2 separate regions of the Homo sapiens genome follow, and region 1 is linked to region 2. The links come from fine-mapping of genetic effects on gene expression. A gene starts in region 2. The other region holds a variant in brackets. All regions are shown on one strand. Distances are from middle to middle. Region 1 holds the start of GARS1 (glycyl-tRNA synthetase 1). Region 2 holds the start of GARS1-DT (GARS1 divergent transcript).

The links.
Region 1: its variant is fine-mapped to the expression of GARS1-DT in whole blood (TOPMed, PIP 0.96).

Annotation. Positions count from the first base shown.
Region 1 is chr7:30,587,266-30,604,419 of GRCh38, forward strand. It overlaps GARS1 (glycyl-tRNA synthetase 1), which reads left to right and starts at 7,613. Exons shown (of 17, transcript NM_002047.4): 1 at 7,613-7,878; 2 at 11,531-11,632; 3 at 12,682-12,784; 4 at 13,794-13,935; 5 at 15,769-15,857; 6 at 16,231-16,307. The coding sequence starts at 7,657. RefSeq lists enhancers at 7,068-7,681, 7,312-7,661, 7,682-8,295, 8,296-8,909 and a silencer at 8,805-8,904. The variant T/C (reference allele first, on the strand shown) is at 6,261.
Region 2 is chr7:30,570,845-30,585,480 of GRCh38, forward strand. GARS1-DT (GARS1 divergent transcript) reads right to left here and starts at 6,935. Exons shown (of 7, transcript NR_038889.1): 1 at 6,805-6,935; 2 at 5,720-5,866.

The DNA of each region.
Region 1 (17,154 bases), 18 kb after region 2:
GAATTAAATCTTACAACAAATTGCACTGCTTCAGCTATTGACACTGTCCCACAGAATTCGAGGGACCTCACCTCCTCGTTTTTGGACGACAGAGGCTGAAACAAATCTTTGCTAAGGGAGGCTGGAAGTTGGGGCAAAACATTATTAATGGGTCACAGGCCAGAAAGGAGAGTCAATGAGAGAGGATTAATGAGGCCAGATCATCTGGTCCACAGGCTGGGCTGACTCATCCTGCATTCTGAGGCTTGATCTTCAGTGCACCTACCTGTGTTGGCTCCTGCTAGGGCTGCGTGAGCCTAAGGAAATAAGACTAAAAAAATCAAGCCTTGTGTATGAGTCTGTTTTCATGCTGCTAATAAAGACATACCCAGGAGTGGGCAATTTACAAAAGAAAGAGGTTTAATTGGACTTACAGTTCCACGTGGCTGGGGAAGCCTCACAATTATGGCGGAAGGCAAGGAGGAGCAAGTCACATCTTACATGGATGGCAGCAGGCAAAGAGAGCTTGTGCAGGAAAACTCCCCCTTATAATAACCATCATATCTCGTGAGACTTATTCACTATCATGAGAACAACACAGGAAAGACCTGGCCCCATGATTCAATTACCTCCCACTGGGTCCCTTCCACAACATATGGGAATTCAAGATGAGATTTGGGTGAGGACACAGCCAAACCATATCACTTTGGAACTCTCAGCTTCTCAAGGGGTAAATGTTGATTAAATGACTATATGACAGGTACCAGGGCTCTTATATGGCACAGAAGATTCAGGGAGGATACTACCTCACTGCTGTGACACTCACTGTCAAAGCCCCAAGAGGCACCTTGAAGGGACTTCACTTCTCAAGAAAAGGAATTGTATACTCAGTTCAGGGAAGATTCCTGTATTAGTTATCTACTGTTATGTAACAAATTACTCTAAAACTAGCAGCTTAAAAAACAACAAATATTTATTGTCTCAATGTTTTTGAAAGTCAAAAATATGGAAGAAGTTTAGCTGGCAAGTTCTGGATCAGGGTCTTTCATAAGGTTAGATTTGAGATGTCATCTGGGGCTGCAGTCATCTGAAGGCTGGACTGGGGCTGAAAAATCTACCTCCTGCATAGCTCAACCCCATGGCTGTTGGCAGGAGGCCACAGGTCCTCACTGACTATTGGCACTAATCATAAAAAAGTTGGAGTGGCTATATTAATGTTAGGCTAAATATATTATAAGATAAAAAGTATATTTTGAGATGAAGAAGAATATTTCATAATAAAAAAAATGCCATTTGCCAGTAAGATATAACAATTATAAATGTGTACATGCCTCATAACAAATTCAAAATACATAAAGCAAACGTGAAAGAACTAAAGGGAGAAATAGACAAATCCACAGTCGTGGTTAGATACTTTAACTTCTTCTCTTAGTTACTGATAGAACTAGATAAAAAATTAGTAATGATCATGAAAGTTGTCAGAATCTAAGTGGAATTACTTATGTCAAACTCTAACAAAAATAAATAAATAAGGCTGGGAGGCTGAGAAGCAGGGCGGTGTGTGGGGGGGTGTTGCACACATATCTATGATAAGAACACGATTACAAAGACTCTCTGAAGAGCTCTTACCCACCCATGCCTGTAAGAAGAACTTTTGTCAAAGACTTCCCAAACTGCTACATGAATCACAATGATAGCTAGCCAGATGTACAACAACACCTGCCTGACACACTGTCTTCACTAATGAACTGGCTTCAACTCCTGTGATAAGCCCCTGTAACCAATATTCTCTGTTTCAAGGCAAATTATGTGTCCTTCTCCCTGTTGCCTTTAAAAGCTTCCCCTTGCCTCAGCCTCTTCAGTTATGCCTATGGTCCCAAGAGCCCTATATCCTGGATTTGCAAGTCCCCTGCACATCTCAAATAAACTCAATATCTCTGGAGAATCTCCCTCTGTCTGTTATTTGGGTTGAAGTAATACAGAAGATCTGAACAACACTATCAACCACCTTGGTCTAATTGACATGTATAAAACACTACATACGATAACTGGATAATACACAATTTTTAAGTACACATGGAGTGTTCGCCAAGATATACCATATGTTGAGTCATAAACAAGTCAATAAATTTCAAAAGGCTTTCTCAGATCACACAGGAATTAAACTAGAAAGCAACAATTAAAATAATAGGATATGTTAAAAAGCCCTAAATATTTGGAAATTAAATAACACTTTTCTCGACAAGGAGTAAGTCAAAGAAGAAATCATAAAGAAAATTAGAAAGTACTTTGAACTAAATGAAAATGAAAACAATGTATCAAAAATTTGTGGATTTAACTAAAGCAGTAAGTAGAAGGAAATCTATAATTTCAAATGTTTGTCTTAGAAGAAAGGCTTATAAATTTTCATATTGAGAAGCTAAAAAAGAAGAGCAAATTAAACCCAGAGTAAGTAAAAAGGAAAACATTATAAAGATAAAAGTGGAAATCAATGGAATAGAAAATAGACAAAATAATAGAGAACATTAACAAACCCAAAACTTTTATGTTTAACAAAATTGATAAAATTGGTAAGCTTTTAGCAAGACTAATCAAGAAAAGAGAGGGAGAGAAAAAAACTAATTACTGGTATCAGGAATGAAAGAGGAGATTTCATTCCAGATCTTATACATATATTCAAATAATACTACTGGAATATTATGAACAACTTTAAAACAATAAATCTGATAACTTATATGAAATGGCCAGATTCCCTGAAAAACAAAACTTACCAAAAGTGGCAAAAGATGAAATAGAAAGCATGGATGGCTCTGCAACTGCAAAAAAACTTTTCCACAAAGAAAACTCCAGAATTCACTGGTGAATTCTATCAAATGGTTATGGAAGAAATGATAACAATCTTACAAATATTGAAATTTCAGAAAATAGAGAAGAAAGAAACTCTGATTTTATAAAGCCAGGCCAAAACCTGGCAAAGATACAAGAAAAGAAAACAATACACTGATTGCCTGTATGTTCATTTTTCATGAACATACAGGCAAAAATCTTTATCAAGATGTTAGTAAATAAAATCCAGCAGAATATAAGAAAGACAAAACCAAGTTGAATTTGTTAGCATTACACTAAATGGAGAAACATTGAACACTTTTCCCTCTAATATCAGGAACAAGGCAAGATGTTCATTCACTGCTTCTATTCAATATTGTGCAAGATGACCTAGACTACGCAACCACACAAGTAAAAGAAAAAGGCATAAATATTGGAAAGAAAGAAGTAAAACTGATTCTATTTACAAAGTATATGCATATTAATACAGAAAATCCTAAGGAATCGGCCGGGCGCGGTGGCTCACGCCTGTAATCCCAGCACTTTGGGAGGCCGAGGCGGGTGGATCATGAGGTCAGGAGATCGAGACCATCCTGGCTAACAAGGTGAAACCCCGTCTCTACTAAAAATACAAAAAATTAGCCGGGCGCGGTGGCGGGCGCCTGTAGTCCCAGCTACTCGGGAGGCTGAGGCAGGAGAATGGCGTGAACCCGGGAAGCGGAGCTTGCAGTGAGCCGAGATTGCGCCACTGCAGTCCGCAGTCCGGCCTGGGCGACAGAGCGAGACTCCGTCTCAAAAAAAAAAGAAAATCCTAAGGAATCTACAACCCCCGCCCCTACAAAACAAATAATAGCACTAATAAGTGAAAGTCTCAATGTCACTATACAAAATCAATTATATTTCTCTACATTAACAGCAAATCAATGGAAAATAAAATAACATTCACAAGACTCAAAGAATAAAATACTTAGGAATATATTTATCAAAATGCATTCAGTGCTTTAAACTATGAATTCTCCCCAAATTAAACTACAGGTTCACAATTCCAGCAGGTATTTTTACAAAGTTGATAAGTCAATTCTAAAATTTATATAGAAATAGAAAGAACCTGGAATAGAAAAACAATTTTGAAAAAGAAGAAAGGGTAGACAATATACATTATTTGACTTCAGGAATTATCCTCAAGCAATAGTCATCAAGGAAGTGTGATACTAGCATAAAGATTGATAGATAAATGGATCATTAGAACAGAATAGAGACCCCAGATATAGGTCCACCTTATATGGTGAACTTATTTTTGACAAAGGCACTAGAGCTGATCAATGGCAGTAATTTTTTGTAAGCCCTACTTTTTTCCAACAAATGATGCTGTAGCAACTGGATATCTATATGGGAAGAATGAACTTTGACTCTTACCTAAAACTATACACAAAAGTTAATTCAAGATGCATCATAGACCTAAACATAAAACTACTAAAATTTTGGACAAAAATATGGGTGAATATCTGAGAGTAGGCAAAGATTTTTTAGAACCCAGAAAAAAAACAAATTGATAAATTAGACTTCATCAAAATTAAAAATTTCTGCTTATCAAAACCATCATTAACAAACAGGCAAGCCACAGACTGGAAGAAAATATTTATGAAACATGTACCTAGCAAAGGACTGTATCCAGCATATCTAAATCTCCTATAATTCAATATTAAAAAGCAAAGACAAAAAATGTGGATGTTTCACAAAAGAAGAGGTACAAATGACCACTAAGCACATGAAAACACAATCAACTCTATTAATCACCAGGAAAATGCATACAAGTCACAATGAGATACAACTATTAGAATAGCTAAAATCTGGAAGGCCGGCAACATCAAATGTTAACAAGGATGTGGAGCAACTAGAACTCTTATATATTGCTCTTAAGAACATAAAATAATACGACCACATTGGAAAAACTTGTGACAATCTAATAAAATTAAATATGCATCTATTGTTTGACTCAGTAATTCCGCACCTAGATATTTACCCAAGAGAAATGAAAACATATAGCTACAAAAAAAGATGTATGAGAATGTTCACAGCAGCATTATTCATAATGGTCTACAATATGAAACAACCCAAATGTCTATCAACTAGTGAATAAATTAATAAATTATAGTATATTCACACAATGGGATACTTCAGAGCAAAAAAGGGCAAGTTTCTGATATGTGAAACAATATGGATTAATCTCTCACACATTATGGTCAATTAAAGACATCAGACACAGAGTACATATTACATTATTTCATTTATACAACAGTCTAGATCTAAGAGGAAAATAAATGAGAATAGTGATCGCCTGGTTGTGGAGGGTGGGATGACCGGGATGACATGCAAGGGAACTTTGTGGAGTCAGGGGAAAATGTTCTTTATCTTGCTTGGTGTTGGGGTTACAAAAGGATATTGCTTTGTCGAAACCCATTGAACTATACATTTTTGTTCATTTTAATGTATGCAAAATTTATTTCCCTCAAAGAAATGAACTTTAATAAAGCAAGAAAAATATATGATCATACATACACAATACTAGGGCCTCTTGCAGGGCACTTAAAGAGCCCAACAGAGAAAGGGGCTAAACTCACTTGAAGCTTCATTAGCTATGTAGAAAATCTGCCTCTGCCCCCAGCTCACATTCTGGCCCAACACTCACTTAGTTGTGTGACCATGGACAAGCTGTTTGATATCTCAGTCCCTTGAATCCCACATGTGAAAATTCTGAATAACTATAGAACCTATCTCACTAAATTGGTGAATAAATTCCATGAGATAAATTAGAACTAACTGGTACATAGTGAGTGCTCAACAAACATAAACTATTATCATTATTGTGCAGACACAGTTTTCAAAAGAAAACTGTTTGGGAAATTCTTCCAAGGGCCATGAAGAGCCTACTGAAGTGTCCTGAGAAGAGAAGGGACACAGTCAGATTTGCCTTTCAGAAATAATGACTGGGCCGAGTGCAGTGGCTCACACCTGTAATCCCAGCACTTTGGAAGGCTGAGGCGGGCGGATCACGAGGTCAGGAGTTCGAGACCAGCATGACCAACATGGTGAAACCTCGTCTCTACTAAAAATAAAAAAATTAGCTGGGTGTGGTGGCGCACGCCTGTAATCCCAGCTACTCAGGAGGCTGAGGCAGGAGAATCGCCTGAACCCGGGAGGCGGAGGTTGCAGTGAGCCAAGATCACGCCACTGCACTCCAGCCTGGGTGAAAGAGCGAGACTCCGTCTGGAAAAAAAAAGAAAAAGAAAAAAGAAAGAAAGAATGACTGAAGCAGCAGTGGGGAGGATGAATTGGTCGGGGAGGAGGGAAGAACGGATTTGGAGTCCTTTCAGGACTGTCCTAACATGAAAATGGATGAGACATTATTGATCTAAGGAATTTTTTAGAAATAAAATAGTTTTATTCAAAGGATA[T/C]AGAATTTCAACATTTTAATAAAAATCTAAATAAAAATAAAAGTAAAACTTAAAATGATTTTTCACATTTAAAGATATTAAAATAAATTCAAAATTGCCTAGTAAAATAAAAGCCAAATAAATTATAATTAATATCAAATCTTGAAATAAAAGTGTTTAAAAATATAATTGTTCAATATTGCAGAAGGTTCTTAAGCAACCCACCCTGCTCATGTTGAATTGTAAGTACTTCTCCAGAACTGCACACTGGAACGGGAAGAGAAATAACATGGACTTTCACACCATTAGGAAAGGAGACTTCATTATACTGAGCCCGTCTACTCCTGCACACTCCTGGGGTGGGATTGTGGGTCACAGGGAGACGTACGTGCATACTGCCGAAGAGCTCCCAAGTGGCTGGCTGCACCAGTTAACACTCCCCTGAGCAGTGTAGGGGAGTCTCAGAGGGTCACTTGGCATTTTCCATCATTTTCATTTTAGCCATTTTTGCAGGTGTGCGCAATGCTGTTTTTATAACCAACACATCATTTTTCTCTTCCTTTCCTGGAGGGGGAACCCAGCTTTTCTAGGCCCTCCACCCTTTGGGCAGGAGGAACTGGGTGTGTGGGGCGGGGGGAAGCCATCTCTGGGTGGTTGGTCAGCTGGGGCCTAACCACAGGAGGCAGATAGACTGAGGCTATGCCAAGCAGAAAGACTTATCAGGCACCTCTTGCCTTTCCTCATCTCTGCCGGTTCAAATCCTGCTCGCCCCGCAAGGGCAGATTGGAATTTACCTTCTCCAGAAAGCCTGGGGTGACTCTATCCCCTCACTCCTCCTCCCCCGTTCGCCAGCTTTTGTCTTGACATCGGCGGACCAAGAATGTGTGACTCTGGGCAAATCATTAACCTCTCTGGGCCTATTTCCTTATCTGGGGAACATCTGCACTTGAGCAACAGAAGTCTAAGATCCCTATCTGATTTGATGTTTTGCGACCCTTTTAAGGCGCAGGGCGCGAAAGAACAGAAACAGAAGTGTCCGTTCAAGTAGGTCGGCCGGGGTGTCACTCGTATAAAAACCTATGCTTTGAAGGTTCTCGTGTGTCTCGGCCTGCAGGTCTCGCTCAGAGCTGTGTCCCTGAACATCCACCCTGCTGGGGTGGCTTGACGCACTTCTGTGCAAATCTGTTCGCTCGCAACCCTACCTACCTCTCTCCCGAACCGGAGAAAACCTTCGGCGGGGTCCTTCCGGGTTTTGTGTCGAATCTGCGGCGGCGACCCGGCGCCGCGTCACGCGGTGGTGAATGTGCGGCAGCACGCGCGCCGCGTCGTTTACGCGGCGATTTCATCATGCTCCGAGCCGGGCGGCGCGCGCCGCTTCCGTCGCCACCCTCTCTGGACAGCCCAGGGCCGCAGGCTCATGCCCTCTCCGCGTCCAGTGCTGCTTAGAGGTGCTCGCGCCGCTCTGCTGCTGCTGCTGCCGCCCCGGCTCTTAGCCCGACCCTCGCTCCTGCTCCGCCGGTCCCTCAGCGCGGCCTCCTGCCCCCCGATCTCCTTGCCCGCCGCCGCCTCCCGGAGCAGCATGGACGGCGCGGGGGCTGAGGAGGTGCTGGCACCTCTGAGGCTAGCAGTGCGCCAGCAGGTACCGGTGTTTTGCGCTCTCCGCTAAGCCTCCGGCTCTCCTCCCAGGGCCTTCTTCTGGTCATCCTTCCCTCCTCCCCGGGGAACTGTCCTCCTCTTCGGTTACCCCTTTCTTTCCCTTCATCCTCTGGCGTCTTCTTCGCCTCCCCCACTTTGGTCCCAAGTCCCCCGTGCGTCAGCCACCTCCTCTCCCGCGGACCTCCGTCCTCCTCTCTTTTTGGATGACTCCCTGGAACCCCTCCGACTTCCTGCGTCCCTCTCCGGCTCCGTTCTCCCTTCCCCATTCTGTCACAGCCCGCGTCTCCTCTATTTCCAGTGGGGCTGGGATCTGTGACCCTTTGGTTGTCCTCGCCTCCTAACTGAATAACCTTAACTTCAGTTTTCCAGGCTCTGCTGTACTCTTTGTGCACCCTGGGTGGAAAGCCTCCTAATTCTTTCAGTGGTCAATGATGAGCCGAAAAACTGCCGGTTCTTTCGTCTTACGGCCAGGCCCTTTAATCTTTAGGATGCTTTGATAGTGTTTCCCCCTTAACATCTTCCTTCATTCAGTGCTTAGTTTAGCGGAATGATTGGCTGAGAAAATAGAATTGAAATGTGGATGTGGGGAGGTGTCGAACTTTTCTATTAATGCTGTGAACTCATCATCCTTTGCTCTTGTCATCTTTTCTGGCTTCTGAAAAGGCCGTTTGGAACCAGTGAGCCCTCAGATCGTAAACCTGGGAAACTAAGTGTTGCGGAGTGAAGTCAGCCATCCTTAGTATGGAATATTTTGACATTTGATTTTCCCGAAGGTGAGGGAAGGTTTCATGGGCTGAAGGACTTGGTGATTTAATATAGACCTCCTTTTCCTAGGGCACTGCCATAGAGTTTAGAATTTAGAGATATCAAGGAAAAGATTATTTCAGATGATTCCCATATGCAATTAGGGAGAGCCAGAGCTTGCAGTAGGACCCCGGAGATCATGACTTAGTAGTAAACACCAAACGGGTTTCTCCTGCATGGGCGCCTGATGCAATAATTTGCCTTAGCTACAGAGGGTGGAACCCTATCTCGGAAATAATTCATTGGGGCATAGCTGCCGCAAATTCAGCCACTTTGCCATCTGTCCTCTTCGCTGGTTTGAGCCTGACCGATTTTAATAAATAGCCTTTCATTTTGAAATATCACCACGGGCTTAACTTTTTTCTTCATGATTGGTGTCAGAACACCGATTGCATATTCTGTCTCCCTCCACCCACCTTCCACTCCACAAATAAAATTAGGTGTGGTTCCTTTGTCTTTTCTTAACTTGCCATTTTAAAAAATATCCTTCCCTTTAGAAGGAAGCATACAACTAATTTGGAGAAAAAAAAAAACCACCACACCCAAACCCCTCCCTCTGCCACGTTAGCCTGGAACTGCAGTGAAAATCATCCATCGGTAGTTAAGACAGGATCTAGTTAACTAAAGTAAACTTTGATCGCGGCAGCTTTCCGATGCTACTAACTACTGTCTTGTGTATTGTTTATGTTGTCTTGATTATTGTTTTGTACTTTAAGATATTTTCCGAATATACGAGTTAGTTGATTTAAGTTAGTTTGGATATTTTTTTCTAATTTTCCAAGAACACACATATATCAGTTAGTTAATTGTGTGAATTACTGAGTCCTATGTCAGCTGAAAAATAATTTAAAGATGATCTAATTTTACCCATTTTTTGTATATGGGGAAATGAGACACACTGTCACCCCTATCCATTTTGGATAACTCCATTGTGAAGTGCAATTGAAAACCTTTCCGGAGTGGGATTTTTACTTAATGACTGGTCTTGTTAGTAGCACATGTTTCATAGAAATTTGTTAATCTGGAAAATGAATGAAGTGAGTTTGTCACTTTAAGAAAACAACGGTTAGTATTTGTGGCCAATAATAAAATTCAAACTTTGGGGAAATTTTAGAATTTGGGAAGACTCGTATCTTTTGCTGTGAGCTTGGCAGCTTCACAGTCCTTAAAGATATCTGTGATGAGATGAGTGGTGATATTAACAAACGTGGATTTTTTTTTGATAGTATTTGGATAATCTGCGTAACTCAGTGAACCAGTGTTTTCCAGGTGACCAATGCATGATGTTATGAAATCAGGTATTGGTGAAAGAGCCATTCAAAGCTTAAGATACATTAATAGATTTATTCTGACAGTACAAAAAATTCATTGCTATAGTTTCTGAGTTAGAAATAACCTTGAAGAAGCTACCACTTGTCAGAGTTTTGAGGTAGTATCAAAGAATATCCACAATTATCCGAAACGGCTTTTAAAATTATTTTTCCTTTTCCACCTACATATGTCTTTCTTCATATACTTTACCCAGAACGTCATATTACAAAAGAAGCAGACTTTCCACATTGGTCTTTTAGGATTTTTCACAGATTAAGGTTACCAAAATAGTAAGTGCCAAACTCAAAATTTAAAAACCCATGAGGAAACAAGCCACCTTGAGTGAGACTTAGGGGAAATGATAATAGAATTAGATCCTCCAAAAGTATTAGAATAATCACATATTTTTAAAATGCTTAAGATAATTTTTAAAATAAAAGAAGTACTCAAAAACATGAGCAAAGAACAAGAGACTACCAAAAACAATCACACAGTGTGAAAATGAAGCACATATTGTATGGAAATGGATCACTGAAATTAGAAACTCTGTTGGGTGCCCAAGGGCTATATCAATTTAACAACTTTAATTACTCAGCTGAAAGTTTTTCATCCTATATAGGTAATATTTTGTTTGTTTACTCAGATGACCTATTCCACCATATTACTATAAATATGGAATTAGTATAAGTTGTTGGAAGTTAATAAAATAATTCAGAAATATTAGCAAGGAAAAAATTCCAACTGTAAAGAGAAAGGCAAAGGAAGATGAGCCAGCAGTGACTGAGAAGAATGGTCAGAGAAGTGGGAGGAAAACTGAATAATGTTTTTATTTTTTTTTGTAAGCGAGAGGAGAGAGATTTAAGAAGGTGGTCAATTTATTGGTTCTTCTGTGTTCTCAGTACAAATCTTGCTCTTTCCTACTTTTTAATCAATGCTTTTGTCTCCTCCTTTTTCACCCCTCTATACCCAAAGGAAAAAATTCACCATGTGAGCAGTTATTTGTTAACTTGCCCGTGTGTTCTTCTAGATTATTAAATGAAGAGGGCAGAGACCTTGATTCATAATGATCACTCACATAATAAACATTTGAATTGCATCATTCTTTTTTTTTTTTTTTTTTTTTTTCATTTTGAGACGGAGTCTCACTTTGTCACCCAGGCTGGAGTGTAGTAGCATGATCTTAGCTCAGTGCAACCTCCGCCTTCCGGGTTCAAGTGATTCTCCTGCCTCAGCCTCCCAAGTGGCTGGGATTACAGGTGCCCACCACCACGGCCGGCTAATTTTTGTATTTTCAGTAGCGATGGTGTATCACCATGTTGGCCAGGATGGTCTGAAACTCCTGATCTCAGATGGTGAGGAGGGCCTTTCAAAGTGCTGGTATTACAGGCGTGAGCCACCACGCTTGGCCTGAATTGCATCATTCTTACATAGACTTTTTAAAAGGCACGCTTAAAAACACATTCCTAACATTTCTTAACTTCTGAAACCAATCCTGAATATAAATTCTCTTTCTTGGCTAGGGAGATCTTGTGCGAAAACTCAAAGAAGATAAAGCACCCCAAGTAGACGTAGACAAAGCAGTGGCTGAGCTCAAAGCCCGCAAGAGGGTTCTGGAAGCAAAGGTGAGTCCTGGGATGCTAAAATAGGAACATAAGTAGGTATAGGATTGTTCATCTTTAATTTCTTTGGATGGGAGAGACCTAGAAAAGTTTCTGAACAAGTATCATTTGGTTTATCTGTTTATCCATAATGCCGCCTTCTCCTTTCCCTCTACCTGGTAGACTCCTCATCCTTTCAAAATGCAACTCAAAATGTCAACTTTTTAATAAAGCCTTCCTGACCCTGCAAATGCTGGACTCAATACGCTATATGAATTTCCATGGAAAGGATTGTGCTCTTCTTTACGACTTCTCTTATGCCTGAAAATAATGATTTTTGTTTGTTTGTTTGTTTTAAGGAAAAGGTCTGTTTATTTGATACCTGCTCCCAGACCTTTCAAACAATAGATCTCCCATCACCAAACTTAAGTTGTTTTGGGGTTTTAAAGTAACCATTTTGCTATAGCAATCCACTGACAATTCAAATATTGCTTTATATTGCTTATCAGTATCTACATCAAAGTAAACTTAGTCTTGTTTTTTTTTTGAGATGGAGTCTCGCCCTGTTGCCCAGGCTGGAGTGCAATGGTGCGATCTCAGCTCACTGCAACCTCTGCCTCCCGGGTTCAAGTGATTCTCCTGCCTCAGCCTCCCAAGTAGCTGGGATTACAGGTGCCCACCACCAAGCCCAGCTAATTTTTGTATTTTTAGTAGAGACAGTGTTTTGCCATGTTGGCCAGGCTGGGCTTGAACTCCTGACCTCAGGTGATCCACCCACTTCGGCCTCCCAAAGTACTGGGATTACAGGTGTGAGCCACCGCACCTGGTCAAGCTTAGTCTTGTAATCTTGGAAATGATCATATATTTTCCTAAATGATTAAGTAAAGATATCTTTTATATTACTCAAAGGGAAAAAAAGACCTATGGCTTCTATTGTTTTTAACCTATCAAAATCTTGTCTGTTTGATAAATTTTATATTTAATTCTGGTGAGGAATAAACTAAATTCAGATATATAAGTTCAGATTCCCACCCACCCCTCCACTCACTCACTTTTTATTTAATCTCTAACAGGAGCTGGCGTTACAGCCCAAAGATGATATTGTAGACCGAGCAAAAATGGAAGATACCCTGAAGAGGAGGTTTTTCTATGATCAAGCTTTTGCTATTTATGGAGGTAAGGGATTAATGACAAAAAGAACTATTGTGTTGTTAGTGGCTCTAATATTATACTTAAATCAAGAACATGGCTTGCCTGTTGGTATCCACTTGTATCAGGCCACAAAGCAGAGGATGGATGTTTTGCTTTTGTTTGCTTGGAGTCACCATTTGGTGTGATACCTGTTATTTTTCTCCACTGCATTTATTCCTGGACAGCACTTTTTTTGATTAGGATGTAGGGAATTGTTGGAGGCCCATGTATGTATTTGATGTGTCTGTGTACTCATGTACTCTTTTTAAAATGCAATGGAGACTGAAGAGTAACAGAGGGCCATTGTAGTACTGGCTAACTATACTATGCCCCTTCACACAGGGGCAGTGATAAAACAGTCCTTAGATTATTCTTTATGGTCATCTGCCAGGAGAAAACATTCTTCCCAGGGATGTAGATAAATCACTGTGAATGCCATATGAAGGTATATAGGCAAATACAATTCACTGATGAAATGTAAAACTATATTTTTCATAGTCAACGGATTATTACAACAACATTAGACATATAGTACTTTGCCACTGAAAGTTGACTTGAGTTTGGCTAAGTGGATCTGTAAATGTTTACCCTTTTGAGGTTAAATAGTGCCTCAAATACCCAGGAAAAAATTAGAGAATTGGATGCTAAAATTATAGATCATTGTTATCAGATGTGGTGAGAAATTATTTTGTAATTTTTACGGCAGAAAACTGTAATCTGCTTTTTCATTCTGTTCTCTAAGGGGGAACTTTTGTTGTAGATTTTGGGCTAGTCCTACTTGAAATTACAAATATAGAATTAGTAAATGGCGTAAGAGCTTTTTTATTTTACTTCCATCAGCTAGCTGAAAGTAAGGTTCTTCAGTATTGAGGGATTTGCATTGTTGACTTGAATACACTTTTAGGGAGTATAGGTATCAGTTTCTCATGTCTCCTTGCCTTCATTTGTTCAGAGTAACAAGGTAAAGTATGTGTTTTCCTCTCATATTCTATAGGTGTTAGTGGTCTGTATGACTTTGGGCCAGTTGGCTGTGCTTTGAAGAACAATATTATTCAGACCTGGAGGCAGCACTTTATCCAAGAGGAACAGATCCTGGAGATCGATTGCACCATGCTCACCCCTGAGCCAGTTTTAAAGTGAGATCTTACTTTGGAGTGGGGGTATCCTACTTTAAATAAAATAACTTATTAAATTATTTAATATACTTATCTAAATAACTTCCTGATTATAAAGAACTACTCATTTCATGTAGAAAATCTGAAAAATATGGAAAAGCAAAGAAATGTATACCTTCTGCTCACAGATAGCTATGTTAAGATGATTGTGTTTGTCCTTCCTGTTTTTTCTGTACGTCCCTATGTATTTCAGTGTTAGCAGTACACTGCTTATTTTCATGTAATATTGATGAACATATACTCATATCATTAACTATTCATCTAAAGCATTTTTAATGATAGCATAGTATTCTGTTTTATGGAAGTGCCATAATATGTTAGTTTGTGCCATATTGAAAGCATTAAAGTGTTTCTCATTTTTGACTGCACCGAATATCTTGATAGATGGATTTTTGGGTATATCCTTGATTATTTCCTTAATACAAGTTCTGAGCAAAGGTATACTTGTAGAGATTTTCAGTTAAATACTATTTGTTTTAAAGTTTCAATGCAGAAACTTAGATTATTCCTACCAACGTTATTGAAAGTAGGGCAGAATTTCCTTTTTTTGTGTGTGTGAGATGGAGTCTTGCTCTGTCGCCCAAGCTGGAATGCAGTGGCTTGATCTCGGCTCACTGCAAGCTCTGCCTCCCAGGTTCACGCCATTCTCCTGCCTCAGCCTCCCAAGTAGCTGGGACTACAGGCACCCACCACCACGTCTGGCTAATTTTTTTTTTGTATTTTTAGTACAGACGGGGTTTCACCATGTTAGCCAGGGTGGTCTCGATCTCCTGACCTCGTGATCCGCCCGCCTCGGCCTCCCAAAGTAGGGCAGAATTTCAGAATGTGAAACTGAAAGGAATTCTTTTATTTATTTATTTATTTTTTGAGATGGAGTCTCGCTCTGTCCCCCAGGCTGGAGTGCAGTGGGGCGATCTCTGCTCACTGCAAGCTCCGCCTCTCGGGTTCACGCCATTCTCTTGCCTCAGCCTCCAGAGCAGCTGGGACTACAGGCACCTGCCACCGTGCCTGGCTAATTTTTTTGTATTTTTAGTAGAGACGGGGTTTCACCATGGTCTCGATCTCCTGACCTCGTGATCCGCCTGCCTCGGCCTCCCAAAGTGCTGGGATTACAGGCGTGAGCCACTGCGCCCGGCCTGAAAGAGGAATTCTTGCCATTTTGTAACTCGTCATTATTCATTTAAGGTTGACTGGTGGAGAGCTAATTTTTACTATTGGCATCCGTTAGGTTCTCTTAATAATTTCAGCCAATGAAGAGGAGGAATTCTGAATGATGGCTCTATAAGATCAGGACTACCTATCATTTTAGCTACTTGTTCCACCAATAGGAACTTTGTAGAGATAATACCAATGTCAGTACAGGTTTCAGTGGCAGAAAACACTTCCCTTAAGGTTCAATGTCTATACTGAGCTGCCATGAATTCTTAACTAGTCAAATTCCCAGTGATTTTGGCCTTTGCTTAGATCACTAATAATAATGGCATAGGCATGGATTAATTGATCCTGAAGAATAGTACAGACTTTATGACAACTTGTAGAAAAGAATTGTCTTTTTATTGTCTAGTTAATGTCTTCTTTCTTATGGGAAGGAAGAATGTGGGAGAGGGTGAGAAATAGATTTGAGGAAGAATTTTCTCTGGCATCCATTACTGTCATGGATACATCATTACTATAGATATGGGAGCTTCCATCTTTGAGATGGATATAAATATTGATGGGGAATTATCTTATAAGGTAATATCTATGTGTAATTTGTATGAGAATGACAAATTGGGTTGGCATTTGTTAATTTAGGACCTCTGGCCATGTAGACAAATTTGCTGACTTCATGGTGAAAGACGTAAAAAATGGAGAATGTTTTCGTGCTGACCATCTATTAAAAGGTGAGGTTCTTCATCTCCTTCAGGTAGGATTGATCAAAATAAAAGGTTTAAACTTTCTCTCAGATGTCTTTCATTAAATTTTTTATTGAGGCATAACATTCAAAGAGCAAAGTGCACAGATCTTAAGTATATAGATCAAGTCCTTTATTTTTTAAAAAAGTTATATGTAGATAATTAGTTATATACAGATAATTTTTCTAATTAGCAAATGAATCAAGACAATACCATGACTGCTGTTGTAAAATCAACTGTGGGATTCATGTAAATTAAGAACTTTATGCTTGGATTTACTTTTTAATTGTCTAGCATTGAAACTGAAAAGTGCATTGTCCTTTTTCCCATTGATTGATATATGTCAACACTGTTCTTACAGCTCATTTACAGAAATTGATGTCTGATAAGAAGTGTTCTGTCGAAAAGAAATCAGAAATGGAAAGTGTTTTGGCCCAGGTGAGTACTCTAGAGATGTTATCAGAGTAACCTAGGTGGTCGCTGTCCTTCTTTCAGTGTTTAATGACTGTTGCATTTCCCATTATGCTGACCCTGGCCACATTGTAATGAAGCAGAGGTTAATTCTGTCCTGTATAGCGTCTCTTTTTTTGCATTTTTATTTTCTTCTCTCTTTTGTGACTAACCCTTTATTTCAGCCCAAACTAACAAGTCCGTGTTAATAGGCATTCAATTTGTCTGACCTTGGAAACTACTTTTCTGGATTTAATAGCTAAAACCACAGGAGTGACTGATGATGGGTAGTGTTCAGCACTGGTGTGGAGACTTCGGGGCAGATAACTTGATGAGCACTTTCTCACTGGCTACTTGATCTGCCTCTGCTTGGACCCTGATTTCATGCTATTATTCTTAGAACCTCATGAGCAGGTCCTGACTTTTCTGTCCTTGCTTTTCTCAGTTTGCCTATAGGCCTAAAGTTTTATAATTTGTATAATATTTAAGCTGACAAATTTTAGAGAAGACAAAAAAGAGACCACAGAGATAATTTATTCTGACCTTTTACCAATTGCAGGAATACTTTCTATATTAGAAGTAGTTCTTATCCTTTTGTTGGGTCACAGACCACCCTAAGAATGTGATCAAAACTGCACGTCTCCCTGGGAAGATGCATGTGCTCATGTATATATGTTGCTGGTGTCTCACCTCATCTGTTGGCTATTCCGTTTAGGCAAAGTACATTTCTCCAACACCATGTTTAGTCATGAGGTCTACTGAGGCTCACCTCTTAAATTTTATTTACTTCCTTGGGCAAAAAACAAAAAACCAATACTGTGATTATACCTATTTT
Region 2 (14,636 bases):
TTCTTTCTTGAAGTCAGAGAGACCAAGAACCCACCAGAAGGAATAAATTCTGGAAACACTAGCACCAGACTCTTTCTCTCTGTACCTTGAGATGTAAATTTCACTATCTGATTTTTTTCATCTAAGAGTTCCTTTAATATGCAAATTTAGGGTTATCTTAGCTGACAACTGCCTAGGGTAATAAGATCAAGAAATTAGAAGTCTAGAACTGGAGGAAAAAAAGAGGTCTTGTGAAATGATAAGCTCTACTTCTATCTGCATGTATAATACATCTATGTATTTATGTGTCATGTATATGATGTTTCACTACTAGAAACATGTAAAAGTGCTCTAATTAATTGGCTTAAAGAAAAAAAGGGGCTTTAAATCAAATACTGTATCAGAGAAAATAGAGATTTTAAGCCAAATGTCTTTTCAAGTTCATGTGACTTAAGTATATCTTTAATAAATAAGCTGGTTTTGAAAGTAGTCATGAAATAAAATTAGAATTAGAATGGCTTCAGAATTGTCAACATACACTATTGTTTAAATTTATTGGAACAGTGGTTTCATATTTATCTCTGCTAGATGCCAAAATTTGGCATGAGGGTTATAAAACAATGAATGCAGCCCAAAGGAAAATTATCTCTATGTAAAATTTCATAAATAAGGCATTTAATATTGTTTAGTTAATGAAAACAGCTAAATCCTAAGTTATTGGCAAAAAAAAAAAAAAAGAAACCATTTATCTAACCTTAAGTTTCTTACTTAGGAAAACCTGAAATTCGCAGTCTATAAAAATGATTAACTGGGAAATAACTTTCAATGATAACTCTCAGTTTTCAAAAGTAATCTGAGTAAACTATTAAAAAAATTAATTAGGTAAATGTAATGGAATAAATGCTTGTGATTAAACTTGTTATATAATTTAGAATCTAAAATTATATTAAGTTAAATAATAGGTACTCATTAAACATCTGGGTCATTTCCAATTTAAAATATTAGGCCAGGTGCAGTGGCTCACACCTGTAATCCCAGCACTTTGGGAGGCTGAGGCAGACAGATCATAGTCAGGAGATCGAGATCATCCTGGCTAACACAGTGAAACCCCGTCTCTACTAAAAATACAAAAAATTAGCCAGGCGTGGTGGTGTGCACCTCTAGTCCCAGCTACCCTGGAGGCTGAGGCAGGAGGATGGCGTGAACCCGGGAGGCAGAACTTGCAGTGAGCCAAGATTGTGCCACTGCACTCCAGCCTGGGTGACAGAGCAAGACTCTGTCTCAAGAAAAAAAAAAAATTACAGAAAAATATTTTTCTAAAAAAAGAAATGTGTTCTTATTTAAAGGAAAATAATTTTTTATCTAATTCAAGGCTATTTAAAACTTATGAAACAAGGTAAAAGTAATCGTTAAATAAAAGCAATGTAAAGAAAGTTATAAAAGGTATTTCTGGCAAGAAAAGTTAGAAGGAAGATAATTGTATATGAGAAATATTCTTGTATGGTAAAATTTTGGCCTAGAATAAAACGACTGGTTGTTTAAGAAAGAGGGATGTTCAGGACAAACCAGAAAGTTCAAGTGTTACTGGTAGAGGATCTTGACTATGAGTCATCCAGGTTCTTGGTGTTTTGAACAAAGAATTGGACAAAACACACAAAGCAACGAAGGAATGAAGCAATGAAAGCACAAATTTATTGAAATGAAAGTACACTTCACAAAGTGGGAGTAGGCTCCAGCAAGCAGCTCAAGAGCACTGGTTACAGAATTTTCTGGGGTTTACATACCCGCTAGAGGTTTCCCATTGGTTACTTGGTTACACCCTATGTAAACGAAGGAGTAGCCCATGGCCAGTCTGATTGGTTGTGGGAGGGGACCAATCTGAGGTACTTTCCATTTTTTATCTGCAATGCAGTGCAAAGGGAGTAGCCTCTGATCCTTTTGTTACTTGGGTGTGGAGAGGTGGGGTTTTCCTTTTCATTCAATCCTAGAAACTCAGCACAAATCAGCTTTAGGTTCCCTGTCTCCAGACCCTATTCTCCTGCCTCATTTTCCCCTGAGAGATGTGATCCCCATAAATCTTTCTGGGAGGCAGAGGGACCCATGGTCTTTCTTCCATAACTACTTCATGCTGACTTGGGGCACAGTCCCTACCTACTGGGGATTACAGAACTCTCACCCTGCTCTGTCTAGTGGAGACAAGGTTACTTCTTGGTGGCCGGGGTTGACATCATTATCTGAAACTGACTGGTGGCCCTGCTGCATTATCATAATGGTCTCTAGGCAAGAAGAAATAAATCTGGTTAAAAGATTTAACAAACATGATCCAAAAGCCAAGGCAAGTATAATAATTAATAGTGGACTGGCCAGAGGAAGGAGATGTGAGCCCCAAATTAGCATTTTGACTAGGCGCCCCATGACTCAGACAGCTGTTGTCATATCTTATGGTACCAATCGGCTAGTTTTTGGGTGGCATCCCTTACTAATCCTGTTTGGTTGACATAAAAACAGCATTCTTCCTCTAGGAAAAAGACATAAGCCACCTTCTTCAGCATTTAGGAGATCCAGTCCCCTTCTATTTTACAAAGCCACCACTGCCAAAGACTCTATCTGATTTTGTAAGGTGATGATACTTTTGGGCAATGTCACCTAAGCTTTCCATAAAATCCTTGGACAAGCATTGGTAATAGGATAGGGAAACTGCAAGGCTGCTAACTCTCATTCCTACTCCTGCTGTTATTCCTAGCTCTACCGAAAGTGGTATCAGTTGGATGGCTCATTTGTGTCTGGTGGTTGCAGTTAAAAGTATAATGAAGGATTGGTTGTTGGGAGCTATATTAATTTCGGGGGCTAAATAAACAACTGTATAGGTTCCAGTCCAATTGGCTGGTAAAACATAAGTAGGAACTGGTCCCACACGGGAAAAAGAGTCCTTGTTTTTCAAGACAAAATTGTTTTCTATGGTGAACATGTGGGTTAGCTTGTTGTTTTCACTTTCCCAAGTTATTAAAGTCCCTGGTAAGGTGGCCAAGGGAAAATGTGAACACAGCTAGTGGGCCTACCTTAACGGTATTTAGACTATATATTTAAAGTGTCCTTGACTAGGGATGGTTTCCATAAAAACTGTACAGGTTTTCTAAATGATGCAGCTTGGGTAACTGCATAGCTTACATGATCATGTGAGGGTTTAATCTGTATGGTGTAGTTACATTGGTGACTTTAGATGTCCCAGGGCGGGACCAAAATTTTGGCTTCTCTCAATACAAAGTGTTGCCTGGAATTTTAGTGCTTTGCGCACTGATATGTGCATTGAGATTGGGCCCCAAATGGGTTTCTGAGGGGATGCAACCCCAGAAAGTTTGCTCTGATAGGACTGGGGAAGGTTTACTGCTCATTCTGACATTGTAACCCTTGTCATTTCCATAATTTTAAGGCTATATAAGTCAGCCAGGTTCATTAATTTGAAAGGAGTTTCTCCCTTGTAGTTAGGATGTTAAGTTATTTTTTCAAGGGCCCAAGATTGGGCTGGGATCAGGATTGGTAGTCTGTTTGGATGATGATGGAGATAAACAAAGCCAACAGTGCCTTGCCAAAGCTGGACTGGTGGTATTTAACAGTCTTTGTGTTAAAGTTTTTAATAAATACCCAGAATCCATTAATTACCAGAGGGGTAAAGCGAAACTCTTTTGTAAAATAAAGCTGATTATCAGTATGCATGGTCTTAGTATACACAGGCTGTGGGTGACCATTATGGTATAAAAAAAAAATACTTATTTGTTATTTTGTTCTATAGATAAAAATTAATTAAAACACTTTAAAAGAAGTGATTCAATCCATTTGGAAGAAAGCAATTAAATTGTAAAAATATAAAAATGGCTACTATTATATCCAGCTTACAGTAAATATACAAGAAGGACACCAAGGAAAGTTGATAGGAATTTACTTATCTTTTGGCTGCCTTTTAAACAGGTACTTCAGGTCTTCTACAGGTTCACAGGTTTAGTGGCTGATGGGATCTTCAGGTTCCAGGTCTGGGGGCTTCAGTTATTGCAGGCTGGACCCTGGAAAGACATATCCAACTAACTATTCCCAGTACTTTGACTGGAGAAGGCATGGCCAGTACCACTGAAAATAGTCCCTTCCATTTGGGTTGTAATTGTTCAGCAGGTGATCCCTCCTTCCATGTTTTAACAAGTACTTTATCTCCTGGCCTGATTTTGGGTTGCTGGTTAGTTCCTGGTGTGGGGAGTCTTTGAGTTCTAAACTTTTGTAAAGCCTGCTGAAATTGTCCCAGGTTAATTACGCATGTTACTAAACTGGCTGTTTCTGGATCAGTAATTAGATCATTATTTAAAAATGGCCAGCCAGGAGCGGTGGTTCATGCCTGTAATCCCAGCATTTTGGGAGGTTGAGGCAGGCGAATCACCTGAGGTCAGGAGGTCAAGACCAGCCTGGCCAACATGATGAAACCCTGTCTCTACTAAAAATACAAAAACTAGTCAGGCATGGTGGCACATGCCTGTAATCCCAGCTACTCAGGAGGCTGAGGCAGGAGAATTGCTTGAACCAGGGAGGCAGAGGTTGCAGTGAGCCAAGACTGTGCCATTGCACTCCAGCCTGGGTGACAAGAGCAAAACTCCATCTCAAAAAAAAATGGCCTTCTGTATAACATTTCATATGAGCTCATATTAATTTTTGCTCTAGGAGAATTAAGGGTTCTTAAGAGGGCTACAGGCAATAAGCTGACCCAAATTTCTGATGTTTTCTAACATAGCTTAGCTAACACCCATTTTAAGAGCTTGATTAGCCCTTTCTACTTTCCCATGTAAATAATTTTTGATTCTGAGAGCCTTAGCAGCCCCTTGAGTTCTAAAAGATGGGTCTTTATCACTTTAGAGGCTTTGGGGTAACCCAAACTAGGGGATTTATTTCCTTTAAAAGAAGCTTAGCAACTTCATGAGCCTTCTTTGTTCTCATAGAGCAAGCTTCAACCCAGCCAGTAAAAGTATCTATTACTACTACCAAAAACTTGTATACTTTGCACACTGGCATATGGGTGAAGTCTAATTGCCAGTCTTCCCCTTTAACTTTAGCCAATATGTTCACACACAGAATCTCTTTTACAATTAATTTTTCATAAGCCTTCCACAACTTGTTCAAACCTTTTAGATTATTCCTATCTCACTTAAAACCATCCTTTCACCCTCTAAACTTAGGCAAGAAATCCACATTCCCATGCTTTTTACCAAAGGTACATTATCCTTTTCTTACATGAATTCTTTTCATAACTTACCCAGACCATCTACAAAATGCTTGGACTTTCTGAGTTTTCCTAAACATCTTTCTTTTTAAACAACCAGTCATTTTACGTTAGGACAAGAATTTATCGTACAAGATCTTTTCTCCTACAAAGCCACCATCTCTACAATCTTCCCTCACAAAAACATATCTTCATATATATAACTTTCTTCACATCTCTCCCCTACTTACTGGTTCCTTACTACCTTGTTTCATAAATAACTCTTTTTTTTAAAGTCCATAATTTGAATTAACTTTCAGATAACCTCCAAACTACACAAAATAATTCTTTCTCACCAATAACACATTTTTTGGCATATTTTGTATACAGAATTATATATTAACTATAATTCATATCCTTATGTATTAGTCTGTTTTCATGCTGCTGATAAAGACATACTTAAGACTGGGCAATTTACAAAAGAAAGAGGTTTATTGGACTTACATTTCCACATGCTGGGAAGGCCTCACAATCATGGTGGAAGGCAAGGAAGAGCAAATCACATCTTATGTGGATGGCAGCAGGCAAAAGGAGAGCTTGTGCAGGGCAACTCCCATTTTCAAAACCATCAGATCTCATGAGACCCATTCGCTATCATGAGAACAGCATAATTCAATCATCTCTCACCCACTGGATCCCTCCCCACAACACACGGTAATTATGGGAGTTATAAGAAGAGATTTGGGTGGGGATGCAAAGCCAAACCATATCATCTTAGTAACCTTAAATTTTAGTGAAACCTTAGGAAGCAAAAAATCCTAAACTATCAGATATTAGCATTTTATAGATGAGAATAATTCCACAATTTTTGGAAACATATTCCTCCCTATCATAACCCTTTCTTAATTGGAAATGACTGAGATATCCAATGGGCATCAAAAATACTTTTAAGATTTTAAATTACACAAAATTTACCTAATCATTCATCCCATTTACATGTACTTAAGTCTTTCATTTTTAACAGTTTATCTAGATTACTTCTGAAAACTGAGATATTAGACACCATCATTTAAAGTTAGTTATTTATTTGTTAACCATTTTTAATAGCCAATGAACATTATGTGTTCACCTAAATAAGAACCTCACAGTTAAATACATAGGTGTTTTTGCCAATAACCCAGAAGATTTAGCTAACAATATTAAATTAGTCTCATTTGTCAAAGAAGCCACATAAACTAAGGCCATTTTGTTTTGGCTGGGTTAATAGCTTTATAATCTTCTATGCCAAATGCTGACACTTCAACATTTCTAGCAAAGACAAATATAAAACCCAGACAAAAATGTATGCTGACAATTCTGAAGATATTTCTATTTTCATTTTACCAATAATTTTAAAGCCAGCTATTTAATGAAGATTTACTTAAGTCACATGAACTTGAAAATTGCTTGGACTTATTTATTTAATTTATGAGTGCTTTTTTATTTATAAGCTGATTTGGTTGACACAACATATAACAATAAGTGTACATACAAATAAACACATCTAGACATGTATACACACACACAAACGAAGATCCAATAGCTTTTACCTTGGAACTCTAGCCATGAGATATCAATACAAGCTCACAGGTTTTACATGGTTACACTTTGTTTGCTCCAATAGGTAATCCAGTGAAGGCTGTGAACCAAACATTTTTAAAGCAGTTCCGGTGGCAGTTTGATTTTTAAAGGCCAAACCTCCTCAGACTCCAAAGACACTGGAGCCAAATAGCACCAAAGGAGAGCACCATATGCTGACTAGGCCTGACCCTTCTTAGGACAGCAGCACCAAAGCCTGGATACATGCAACGTCATCCTGCTTTCCCATTCAACAGCAAACTCCAGATTCCAAACAATACTGGGGCCAAGTATTATTGCAAAAGAATATCAAATGTTTCCTCCTTAGATTATCAGGGTCAAATTCATTTCAATGGTTGAGGATGCAGCCAAGTGGGAAGTCAGGTGGAATAAATGGAGTGTTTCCTGTAGTGGTCTGCAAGAGAGAGACAATTCTAAGGAGGCCTTAGTACTAGACCTGAGAACCTTTGCCTAGGGCATCCCCTTTGGAGAGGCTGAGGTCTGGAGTTGGATCCCCTAGGCATCCCCCTTTGAGGTCCAGTCTAAAAGTGTCAGACATCTCTGACCTTAGGTGGGCACCAGTGTTGCTTTGTATGTTTTCCCTCCAGAGGCAATGGCCTAATATGAGCTTTTCTCTTGTCCCTGGATGAAGGTCTCAGCTTCTAGCTTCCTACCAATTTAGATAGGCCATATCTTCCTGCATTCCTTGCAAGACTAAGGAGGTTCCCGAACACTGCAGAGTTAACGGTACCAAGGCTAGTGGGATATTCCCCATGAAGAAATGGTGCAGAGGTTATATAAAAGATTGGGTTTATATTGGGTATATAAAAGATATATAGAATTTCTACGGGGTTCAGGGCAAGCAAACTGATGCCAAAGCAATGACCACCAAGCTCCCTTAAGTGGAGGTCCAAGATGTAGAATGTGTTCTAAAGCTTGTGGGTCCCAAAGGTCCTCAGCCAGTCAATAGATTCAGTAGGAGAAGGGAGGTCAAAATATCTAAGAGATATTATCTTTTGTCCTTACAGGCCAACTTTATGGGAGAATTTAGCTTAAGAAAGAGGGTTTAAGTCGCCTGAAATGTGTGTGAGTTCACCCTGGACGAGCTTCTGCTGCCAATTGCATCACAGGTAGGGATCAGGGACTATAACTCAAAAAGATACAAAAGAGTCCTTCCGCCTTCTGGGCAGGAGAGCTATCCCAGGTTCACTCCTTGGCCTTCAGGTAACAGTAGAGAGTGGTCCCGGCCAGTTTCCCTCAATTACCAAGAAGCTACTAGGAAACGGCCACTGAAAGACTGAAAAAAGGAAAAGGACTCAGGTCCCTCACCTGAATTGGGCAGTGGTGGTCAGGCACTTTCACACAGAAACCTTTCAGTTTCACCAGAGAGTGGCCCTGTTAGAAACCTGTGGTTGCCTCTGTGCTTAGGCACTGTCCACCGAGGGTTCCAAGCTGGAAAGGGAAAAAGAGACAGAGAAAAGAGTTCCCCTGTAAGGAGCAGAGAGGAAAAGGGAAATCAAGAGAAGAAAAATAAATCCCAAACTTTGGGCTTACCTCCTGGCTGGCTCGCCAATATATGTTACTGGTGGAGGGTCTTGACTATGAGTCATCCAGGTTCTTGGCATTTTGAACAAGGAACTGGACAAAATGCACAAACCAAGCAATGAAAGAATGAAGCAAAGAACGCACAGATTTATTTAAATGAAAGTACACTCCACAGACTGGGATTGGGCTCCAGCAAGGAGCTCAAGAGGCCGGTTACAGAATTTCCTGGAGTTTAAATACCCTCTAGAAGTTTTCCATTGGTTACTTGGTTATACCCTATGTAAGTGAAGGAGTGGCCCACGACAAGTCTGATTGGTTGTGGGAGGGGACCAATCAGAGGTACTTTCCATTTTTATCTGTGAGGCAGTGCAAAGACAGTAGCCTCTGATACTTTTGTTACTTGGGTGTGGAGAGGTGGGGTTTTCCTTGTGATTCAGTTCTAGGAAGTCAGGGCAAATTGGCCTTAGATTCCCTGCCTCCAGACCCTATTCTTCTACCTCACAAGCATGTCATGAATGGTCTGGAGTAAATCATAAGCGGATTTATGGAAAAAAAAGCTTTTAGATAATCAAGTTGTCTATAATTAAAGGGAAATTATTTTTAATGGTCTTTCTAGGAATTGGGTTTTGGTATTTTCTAAAAACCATTTATATACTGAAGAATCTTAGCACTTTGGGAGGCCAAGGCAGGTGGCTCACATGGTCACAGGTTCAAGACCAGCCTGGCCAAGATGGTGAAACCCCGTCTCTACTAAAAATACAAAAATTAGCCAGGCGTGGTGGCAGACGCCTGTAATCCCAGCTACTCGGGAGGCTGAGGCAGAGAGTTGCTTGAACCCAGGAGGCGGAGTTTGCAGTGAGCTGAGATTGTACCACTGCACTCCAGCTTGGGTGACAGAGTGAGACTCTGTCACACACAAAAAAAAAAAAAAAAAATTGGTTAGAACAATGGAATTTTCTTGAAGTATTGCTTCATTCTTAATAAAATTAAAATTGATAAAAGACATTATAATTTTTTAAGTAAATTTCAACTTGTATTGCATCTCACTGTTTTCAGCTTTTTCTCCCCTTTTAAAGTGCCTGAAATAATCACTCTATTCTTCAACTCATTTTCAGCTTCTGTAAGCTTCTTTTTTTTCGGGTTCTGTTGTGGTCTGATGCTAAAAATGTTTTCTCTTAAAGGTCTAAAGGAAATGTTTCCTTCCAACATAATATTCTGTGCTTTTGGCTTTAAATTGTTCTATGAAATAAAAAATTTTCACTTACGACCCAGGAAACACTCTTCCTATGTCTAACTGTGTCCAGAATTGGTTCCTGCCTATGGGTTCTTGGTCTCACTGACTTCAAGAATGAAGCCGCAGACCCTCGTGGTGAGTGTTACAATTCTTAAAGATGGTATGTCTGGAGTTTGTTCCTTCAGATGTTCAGATGTGTCCAGAGTTTCTTACTTCTGGTGGGTTCGTGGTCTTGCTGACTTCAGGAGTGAAGCCGCAGACCTTTGCAATGAGTGTTACAGCTCATAAAGGTAGTGCAGACCCAAAGCGTGAGCAGCAGCAAGATTTATTGTGAAGAGCAAAAGAACAAAGCTTCCACAGTGTGGAAGAGGACCTCAGCCAGTTGCAGCTGCTGGTTTGGGTGGCGAGCTTTTACTCCCTTATTTGGCCCTGCCCATGCCCTGCTGATCGGTCCATTCTACAGAGCGCTGATTGGTCCACTTTACAGAGTGCTGATTGGTCCATTTTTAGAGTGCTGATTGGTGCATTTACAAACCTTTAGCTAGACACAGAGCGCTGATTGGTGCGTTTTTACAGAGTGCTGATTGGTCTGTTTACAAACCTTTAGCTAGACGCAGAGCACTGATTGGTGTGTTTTTACTAGTGCTGATTGTTGTGCTTACAAACTTTTAGCTAGACACAGAGCGCTGATTGGTGCGTTTTTACAGAGTGCTGATTGGTGTGTTTACAAACCTTTAGCTAGATGCAGAGCACTGATTGGTGTGTTTTTACGAGTGCTGATTGTTGTGCTTACAAACTTTTAGCTAGACACAGAGCGCTGATTGGTGCGTTTTTACAGAGTGCTGATTGGTGCATTTACAAACCTTTAGGTAGACACAGAGCGCTGATTGGTGTGTTTACAATCCTTTAGCTAGACAGAAAAGTTCTCCAAGTCCCCACCCGACCCAGAAGCCCAGCTGGCTTCACCTCTCATAACTAATTCAAGTATCTCTTTAATTAGTTTTGACTTGCAGTTAATCTAAATGGATTCTCCACAGGGAACAGCAGTCGCAGTGCAGAAGCTCTTTGCTTTTGCTTTTGGGTAACTGGCCTAACAAACAGATTTTACACTTTATATTGAAATAATTCCTATGTCATTATTACTAAGTTTTGGTCTGCTTAGAAAAAACTGAGATTAAAAGAAAAACTATTTTTCATTAAGGTTATTACATCTGTGTAACTTTCTGTATGTGCTTTTAAAGTCCTTGTGCCATCAAGTTACAGGGTTTAGACTCCTGGGTCTAAAAAGGATGCCAAGTCCGGCTAAATCTTAAACACTGACAGCAGTTAAAGCTTTATCTTCAGACCCTGTAGAAGATACCAATCAAAATAAACTGTGTTCATGAGACACAGGGCCAGAAATTAAAACTATTCAACTCCTCAAGACCCAGGAACTATCATGGAAGACATGGGTGTGTGACATTGTAAGGGTCAATTTTGAGAGATAAAATAAGTTTAGTTTCTCTATAAATTAACCATTAATGTCGAAGGCACTGATGCAAGACTAGCATATGGGCCTCTGAGTCAGATTAACAAGGTTTTCTTGGAGCGTTAACCCACTCCTTAATAAAAGGTTATAAAAAAGGCTTATGGAAATTACATCTTATGGTCAAGATGATTAAACTATTTAATATTATAGGCTGTTTATAAAATTTTGGAGAACAAGTTTAATTGGCCTCATCCTGTCTTTATTAAGGCTTATTGTTTGGGAAATGAAGTCTCCTCTCAAAGAATAAAGGTTTTCGCCTTAAAAAAAATCTTTGAGTTATCGCTTTGTCTAAATGAATGACTTTACAATGACCTGTGATCCTACTTTGTGATATTAAGTGTTTTAAACTTTTTATGTTTGACAAACCTTCGACAATCAAATTCTAACTTTGGTCCTCATTAATTTTTTGATATTAGTCCCCTGAAGTCCAAAAGAGACATATTTGGTTTATTTGATATAATAAAATCATACAGGAAGTATTGTCAAGTATAAAACAATGTTTAATCTTCTTTGGATTATATTTATGCACATATGTTATTGGTATATGTTTGAGAATTGTATGAAATTCCTGTGATTCTGATATGACTTGGCATATGTTATCAGTGGTAATTATTATTATTATGTAATTGTGGTAATTATAATTATGTAAAATTGTTGTATGCCACAGAAGTAACCAAATATCTTTGTCAATTGTGTCTTTATGACTGTTCTAAGACTTTTGTTATCCACAGTTGTTTTACTTTTATCCTATTCAAAAGGTGGTTTTATAATCAGCTGTGGGACTCTGACAGGTGCTCTTGAATGCAGGCTTCTAATAACTTTGGAGACTGTGACACTAGAATAGAGGAAAAACTTCCAAGACTCCAGTGGAGAGCTGAAATGTTCATGAATATCAAGCAGAAAAGAAGTTAACTGCATGGACTGAACTAATAGAAAACTGAAATAGTCCTTTTATGACTTTTTGCCTAAAACATTGCTGACCCTTTGTTTTTCAGAGCCAAGAAAACTTTTCTTTTGAGCTATTTATAGCTTTTAACAATGGAGTAAAGTATATTTCTGTAAACAAAATTTGGAGCATATTTCTCTCTACCTGATTTCTCCAAAATTTAGAAACTAGTTGTGAGTATTCTTAACTTATGGCAATATAGTTATTTGCATACATGCAATAAGAATCTTTCCTCTGAGAAAGATTCTTTCTCAAGAATGTTCCTTTGTAACAGGGCACAATTGGAGACACTGGTTATTTTACCAAGGTTTTGACTGGAATAGGATGCTTTCAGATACAAACAGACTCCTTTAAAGAATGAAAGTTGACTTTAGAGCCAATAAAAACTCCTTGAGAAACCTGGTCTCATACCTTGTCTGCACAGTCCCGGAACAGGGTGACCTGTAGTGAGTAAAGAATGTCACTTTCTGACAGGCCCAGGAGCCCCAAGTTTTCTTGGGACCTTGAAGTGAGGAATTCACTCAACTAACGCAAGGATTTGCAGGCACAGGCCAGGCTTAATGCATTAAAGTTAAATCTGAGATTCTTAGTGGAATAAAGTTCTAGCAAAGCCAATTAAAAAAAAAGAGGAGCCTATATAGCAAATAATTATTCTTCTGACTTTATGCAAATACTCCAGCCAAGTATAATAAGACTACAACTTATTTTGCAAATGAATTTGTCCTATGACTTGTCTTTAGTGAAAATGAGACTGGAGAGAGGAAAATTATATTTCAACATAAACTATAGTACACCTGTTATTAGATTCTAGTCTTGCCTAATGTTTTTCAGTTTTTTTTATTTTCTACAATTTAGATTGAATTCAAAAATTTTTCCTGGCTACAAGTCTCCAAAATAATGTTTTCAATTTTTTTCTTCTTTCGTTTACTTCCCCCCACCCCATTTTTCCTGATTTGAAATCACTTAAAATTAAGCAGTCTTTCTTAAAGCCCTACAGACTGAAGCTAGACAATGTAAACTTCAGAAGAAAATAATAGCAACCTATTTACACACATAAACCACTTTCATACCTGCCTACTGACATGGACTTCAGAGTAATACGGCCTATATTGATTTTCCAGGATTCTTCTTCATTTTGTTTGTTTGTTGTTGTTTTTCTTCCTTCCTCCCCCTATTTTCTCTTCAAAGGACATGAGACTTCATAACCTACTAAAAATGAGCTTTCCAAATAACGTGGTACTTATCCATCTAGGAATAAACTATCCTAGCCATGAGAGATCAGACAAAGCCTGAGACCAGAGACTTGTTTTCTTCTAAAATGCTGTCTCTGAAAGATTTTAAAAAGAAAAACGGGGAGATGTGAGAGGAAAATAAATCTCAGGACTCCAAAATTACTAAGCCAAAGGGAAAAGCCAAGCTGGGAACTGTGGGGCAAACCTGCGTCCCATTGTACTCCTAAACAAGATAGCAACAAAGATAAAAAAGCTACATACCTCCCTCACAATTTGCCCACAAGAAAATTCCCTGTAGACAAAAGACAGACAGAACTCAAAGTCATCCTTTTGCTCATGTGAGATAAATGCATATCTAATTGCTTCCTTTTCCCTATTGTTTCACTAAGCCAGACTAAGGCATAAGTGACTATTCCTGTAAGTTATGTATTCAGTGAAAGGTTAATTAGAAACTCAAAAGAATGCAGTCGTACCTATGACCTGGAAACCCAGGTCATAGGTATGTATCAGTGAAAGGCTAATTAGAAACTCAAAAGAATGCAAATGTACCTGTCACCAGGGAGCCCCCTCCCTGCTTCATGTTGTCCCATCTTTCCAGACGAAACTGATGTACATCTTACATATATTGATTGATGTCTCATATCTCCCTAAAATGTATAAAACCAAGTTGTGCCCCAACCACCTTGGACACATGTTGTCACGTTGTCAAGACCTCCTGAAGCTGTCTTGGATACATGCTTAATCTTAGCAAAATTAACTCTCTAAATTGACTGAGACCTATCTCAGGTATTTTGGGTTCAGATAAAGTTTTAGATATGGACTCACTGTAAAAGCAAGGCTTGTTGTTTCTAAGAACTATACTGCGGAGATGAAAAGAGGGGGACTTTCAGGCTGGAAACTATCACATCCACATTCCTTTGCACATCAGCAGCAGAGTCTTTCTTTATACATGGACACAATCCAGGCTCCTCCCTGAGAACTGCCTTGCAGTCAGCAGGAGATGAAGGGTGTTAGGACACTTAGAACTGAGAAGAGTTGGCCGGGCACGGTGGCTCATGGCTGTAATCACAGCACTTCGGGAAGCCAAGACGGGCAGATCACTGAAGTCAGGATTTCAAGACCAGCCTGGCCAACACCCTGTCTCTATTAAAAAATATAAAAAAATTACCTGTGCATGGTGGTGTGTGCCAGTAATCCCAGCTACTCAGGAGGCAGAGGCAAGAAAATCGCTTGAACCCAGGAGGTGGAGGTTGCAGCGAGCTGAGATTGCGCCACTGTACGCCAGCCTGGCAGCCTGCGTGACAGAGCGGGACTCCGTC